2 separate regions of the Homo sapiens genome follow, and region 2 is linked to region 1. The links come from fine-mapping of genetic effects on gene expression. A gene starts in region 1. The other region holds a variant in brackets. All regions are shown on one strand. Distances are between the middles of the regions.

Region 1 (2,911 bases):
TAGGTTATACTCAGACGTCATTTTTTTCATTCATTTTCTAAACGTGCCCATTTGTCCTGGCAGAAAATGCTATAGTTTCTAGAAGTTGATTGAAGATTTCATTTCATCTATTGACATCTCATGTTCAGCTCCTTTCTATTTAGCCATGGCTACCAGCTTCTAGTTCATAACGCTTTTTTTTTTTTTTTTTTGAGATGGAGTTTTTTTTTTTCCTCGCTCTGTTGCCCAGGCTGGAGTGCAGTGGTGTGATGTCGGCTCACTGCAACCTCTGCCTGCCGGGTTCAAGCGATACTCCTGCCTCAGCTTCCTGAGGAGCCGGGATTACAGGAGCGTGCCACCACACCCGGCTAATTTTGCGTTTTTAGTAGAAACGGGGTTTCATCATGTTTGTCAGGCTGGTCTCAAACTCCCGACCTCAGGTGATCCACCCGCCTCAGCCTCCCAAAGTGCTGGGATTACAGGCGTGAGCCACCGCGCCCGGCCATAACGCTTTTAAGTCTAGTATTTTTACTTCATAAACATATGGAGAAAGGCTAATGTTTTCAAATTCAAAGTGTGATGTCTTGGCTTTTGATTGGAGCGTTTAATTCATTAACATTTAATGGCATAAGGAGGGAGCATTTCCACGCTGTGCAGAGGGGACAGGTATTTTGAGACCTCAGAGTAAAATTCTTAATTGTCCCTCCCTTATCACCAGCTTCTGATCCACCCCGGAGCTCCATTTTAGGAATCATTGCCTGGCTTCCCAGCTTGGGGATATGTTTGACCTCCTGAAAGGGGGTCTGCTTGTGAACTGTGAGTGCAGTAGGCTGCTTCTCTGAGCTTGTTCAAGTTTTTGCTTTTCTTCTCTTTTGATTCTTTATGAAATATTGCTGCCATATAATTCCAGTTTTTCCACATACTCAACTATTTTATTTTGTTGTCCTGTTTTTATCTTCTGGGCTGAAAATGAGTAGATTGAGAGATAAGGTGAGGGAAAGGCTTGGCAACGTCGCCAACAGCCTCATCCCAAATTCCTGATCCCTGGAGGACATCAGGCCCTCCCTCCTGCTGCAGGGTGGCCTGTGTGCCCCGGGCTCCCCTCCTGCTCCGAGGTCCGGGAATGGCTCCACTGGACAGGGAGCCTGGAATTCCCTGCACACACTTGTGAGTCCCTGTCCAGGAGGAAAAAGCAGGAAGAACCCACTGAATACAATCAGGAAATTCTAAAATGCAAACGTCACTTCGGGAGGGGTCAGGTCACTCCGTTGGGAGGAAGCCCGCCTTGCCAAGGGTCGTGCCTGGAACCTGTTCATCCGGCTCCACTCAGCACTGTGAGATCGCTTCTTCTGTCAATCAGCCACCAAGGGGCGGGACCTGGAGCACTATCCAATCAGGGATGAGGGGGCGGGGATTGTGAGAACTGTCAATCAGGCACGCTGCAGGGAGGAGGGTGCGACGTTCAAAGAGCCCGCGGAGTCTTCTCCACGCCCCTGCGCTCTGAGTCCTGGCTCTGGCGCTGAGAGAGAGACGCCCTGGAAGGTCTGTATCAGCGTCTGTCGCGCTGGGACCCACACTGGCTTTTAAGGAGGACACCCGGACACCTGGAAGCTGGGAAATGGTGAGTGTGCGGGGCCCGGCGTCCCGAGGCAAAGAAGGGGCAGGTTGGAACCGGCCGGAACCGACCGTGAGGGGACCCGGGCCTCGCCCTGGGCGACTCCGGGGTCTGCAAATCCCAGTGCCCCTGGCGCAGCTCTGCCCTTGGTCCCCTGGGCCGCAAGATGGGGCTGGGGCGGCAGCCGGGACCCCGGGCGTCCTGTCCCGTCCCTGCTCGGCCGCTGCGGCCCCGGCCCCGGCGCCCTCTCTGGGCAGCTCCGCGCCCGCAGCTCCGCGTCTCCCCAGATTGTGCAGTTGTAACCGGCACAGGTTCACGGCCCGAGTCACTGCACCGAGACGCCGAAGGCTGCAGCAGAAACAGTTTAATGGGGGAGAGGGGAGGACACCCCAGATCCGCCTCCCTGAGAGGTTTGGGGATGGGGTGTTTAGAGGTGTGGACAGGGACGGCTGGAGTGTGGGGTCGCTGGTTGGTGGAGAAGTGAGAGGTGACTCCTGGGACTGGAGGTGAAGAAACCGCATTCTGCTGAGTGGGTTCCCTTGTGGGGTCTTCAGCCTGGTTGGCGCCAGCCTTTCCGCTGCAATTCAGGATCCGAGAAAGAACTGAGGCGACCCGTGAGCAACTCTCAAGAGATCTTATCCCCGGGCACGATGAGGAAGCCGGCGGTCAGCGTCTGCTGTGACCTGACTCTCAGGGAGGCGGCCCCGTGAGGCAGCGGGGCTGAGGGCACCTGGTTAATATCTAACTGCAATCTCGCCTCCAGCCTGGCTCGCAGTTCCTGTGAACCCGGTGAGGACGCTGCACGGTGACAACGGAGGGTCACCAGGCAGAATCCAGACTCGTGTGTGTGGGCTTTGTGCTTTGGAAGAGAAGCTGTGATCTGTGGGTTCCCCAGTCCCTTCTTTCTTCCCAAAGGTGACCGGTTTCCCTCCGAGTCTTCCAAAGATGTGGGCAGCAGGGTCTCAAATCCACCACCCTATCCCCTCATCCTAACTCCTCCTAGGGCTGGCAGCAAATCTCTTGGTTTTCAGAGCCTTCCCCAGGCTAACTGTCTCTCATCAATTCCCAGCAACTTTATGAACTCTTTGTCCCTCAGGCAATATTTCAAACAGAGGCATTATTTTAATTGTCACTTTCTTTTCACATAGCAATGTATGGCTCTTTTTAAAAGATGTGTTTTTGTGTTTGTGAACATTTCACATGTGAGGAAGCAAAGAATAACCACTTGACTCCAGTGTGAAAAAAAAAAAAAAAAAAAAAAAGCCGGGCGCGGTGGCTCACGCCTGTAATCCCAGCACTTTGGGAGGCTAAGGCTGG
Region 2 (2,911 bases), 410 kb before region 1:
CTTGGCTACTGATTTTTTTTTTTTTTTTTTTTTGAGACTGAGTCTTGCTCTGTCGCCAGGCTGGAGTGCAGTGGTGAGATCTCAGCTCACTGCAACCTCCGACTCCCTTGTTCAAGTGATTCTCCTGCCTCAGCCTCCTGAGTAGCTGGGATTACAGGCATACGCCACCGCCACCACACCAGCTAATTTTTGTATTTTTAGAAGAGACGGGGTTTCACTATGTTGGCCAGAATGGTCTTGATCTCCTGACCTCGTGATCCACCTGCCTTGGCCTCCCAAAGTTGGCTATTGTTAACAGTGGTTTTCAAATGTGTCTTCAAGATCTGGATTTCAATTTTTTTTTAATTGAAAATAAGTAGACACAAAAGTAGATTGCTGAAAGATATGTTAATTTTGGCCAGGCGCAGTGGCTCATGCCTGTAATCCCAACACTTTGGGAGGCCGAGACAGGTGGATCACAAGGTCAGGAGTTCAAAACCAGCCTGGCCAAGACGGTGAAACCCTGTCTCTACTAAAAAAAATACAAAAATTAGCCAGGCATGGTGGCGGGCGCCTGTAATCCCAGCTACTTGGGAGGCTGAGGCAGAAAATTGCTTGAACCTGGGAGGCTGAGGTTGCAGTGAGCCAAGATTGTGCCACTGCACTCCAGCCTGTGTGACAGAGTGAGACTCTATCTCAAAAAAAAAAAAAAAATGGTAGTTATATTATTTTTTTCAGGCACCGTCATACTATTCCATAGGGGCTGAGCCATTTACCATCCTTTGGACAGAGCACATGGGGTTCATTTTCTCTCTTGATGGTGTTCTCTTACACCATTTCACACAAAAGTTTTTACATTTGATAAATATTTGCCTTTTTGTTGAGACTGGACACCCTGGAGTTTTTGCCTCTCCAATCTTGTTGCCATTCAACCTCCAGCAATTCATCAGTTATAATTCAGGCTTTTCTACCCAAGCACAGTTTCCAAGAAAGGTTTCTGCTCTTGATTTTTTGTTTTAGTTAGTTATGACTCTTATCAGTCAGATTGGTAGGGCCTCAGCCAGGCTTGGTGGCTCATGCCTGTAATCCCAGCACTTTGGGAGGCCAAGGCTGGTGGATCACTTGTGGTCAGGAGTTGGAGACCAGTCTGGCCAACATGGTAAAACCCCATCTCTACTAAAAATACAAAAATTAGTTGTGCGTGGTGGCAGGCGCCTATAATCTCAGCTACTTGGGAGGCTGAAGCATGAGAATCATTTGAACCTGGGAGGCGGAGGTTGCAGTGAGCC[A/C]AGATCATGCCACTGCACTCCCACTTGGGTGACAGAATGAGATTCTGTCTCAAAAAATAATAATAATTAAAAAAAAAGAATTTCTTTATGGAAGAGTGAGTGTTGACAGAGTAAAAAGTCTGATGACCAGATCATGGAATAAATGTTTGGAGTCCATAGCACCATGGAAACTTTGTAGGAATAGAGTATAGGAACCCAGTGCTGTCAGTCTCACCCATGTTTCTTTACACATGTGGGATGTTTCAGGATTCAGTGGTCTTTGAGGATGTAGATGTGAACTTCACCCAGGAGGAGTGGGCTTTGCTGGATCCTTCCCAGAAGAATCTCTACAGAGATGTGATGCAGGAAACCTTCAGGAACCTGGCTTCTGTAGGTAAGGGTAACAATATTACTTTCCTCAGTGAATTAGAGAACAAGTGTTTCTAGCTTGTCAGTAGTGTTGAGTGATTTGGAGTGTGGACAGGGAATAGTGAGGACAGGGAATAGGAATGTGAATAAATGCTGCAAGGCTGCAGTGTACCATGAACTTAGAATCTAGTACTTTTTTCATAATTTTGCTAATTCAGGACTATTTTTCTGGTTCTGTATTTTAGGAAAAAAATGGAAAGATCAGAAAATTGAAGATGAGTACAAAAATCCCAGGAGAAACCTAAGGTAATTCGCATTCACAAGAGAAAGTGATGTCTCTCTAGACAATCATAGAATGGAAGAAAATGTTAAAAAGAAGCAAACAAGAAATAAGCCAAGTTCCACTGTATTTATTCTTACAAAATTTTCTCTAGGGCCGGCTGTGGTGGCTCACGCCTGTAATCCCAGCACTTTGGGAGGCTGAGGCAGGCGGATCACGAGGTCAGGAGATCGAAACCATCCTGGCTAACATGGTGAAACCCTGTCTCTACTAAAAATCCAAAAAAATTAGCCGGGCGTGATGGCGGGCACCTGTAGTCCCAGCTACTTGGGAGGCTGAGGCAGGAGAATGGCATGAACCCGGGAGGCAGAGATTGCAGTGAGCCGAGATCATGCCACTGCACTCCATCCTGGGCGACTGAGCGAGACTCCGTCTCAAAAAAAAAAAAAATCTCTAAAAACATATATTTAAGTGTGACATAGGCTGAACATCCTGGCTTAAGCCTATAATCCAGCCCTTTGGGAGGTTCAGGTCAGAGATTGCTTGAGCTGAAGAGTTTGAGGCTACACTCGGCCATGATAGCACCATTACACTCTAGCCTGGGTTAAAGGGCAAGACCCTGACTCAGAAGCAATAAAATTGACAAAGACAGTTAGTACTTGTAAAATAGTTTACCTGAAAATAGTGTTGGCCGGGCGCCCAGGTGTATGCCTGTAATCCTAATGCTTTAAGAGGCTGAGGTGGGCAGATTGCTTGAGTCTAGGAGTTTGAGACCAGCCAGGGAAATGTGACAAAACCCCATCTCTAGCAAATATACAAAAATTAGCCAGGCACGATGGTATGCTTGTAGCCTCAGGTAATCAGGAGGCTGAAGTGGCAGGACGGCTTCAGATCGGGAGATGGAGGTTGCAGTGAGCTGAGATCTCACCACCGCACTCCAGCCTGGATGACAGAGTGAGACCCTATCTCAAAAAATGTTTAAAAAGTACTAAGAAGCCCTATATCAATATTATCT

Evidence for each region.
Region 2: its variant is fine-mapped to the expression of ZNF823 in whole blood (INTERVAL, PIP 0.98).

The regions. Positions count from the first base shown.
Region 1 is chr19:11,737,506-11,740,416 of GRCh38, reverse strand. It overlaps ZNF823 (zinc finger protein 823), which reads left to right and starts at 1,471. Exons shown (of 4, transcript NM_001080493.4): 1 at 1,471-1,600. The coding sequence starts at 1,598. RefSeq lists silencers at 1,293-1,487, 1,748-1,897 and enhancers at 1,498-1,577, 1,968-2,097.
Region 2 is chr19:12,146,406-12,149,316 of GRCh38, reverse strand. It overlaps ZNF625 (zinc finger protein 625), which reads left to right. Exons shown (of 4, transcript NM_145233.4): 2 at 1,515-1,641; 3 at 1,862-1,922. ZNF625-ZNF20 (ZNF625-ZNF20 readthrough (NMD candidate)) reads left to right here. Exons shown (of 8, transcript NR_037802.1): 2 at 1,515-1,641; 3 at 1,862-1,922. Among named protein-coding and RNA genes, the nearest start is that of ZNF20, 7.5 kb to the right of the region's middle. The variant A/C (reference allele first, on the strand shown) is at 1,269.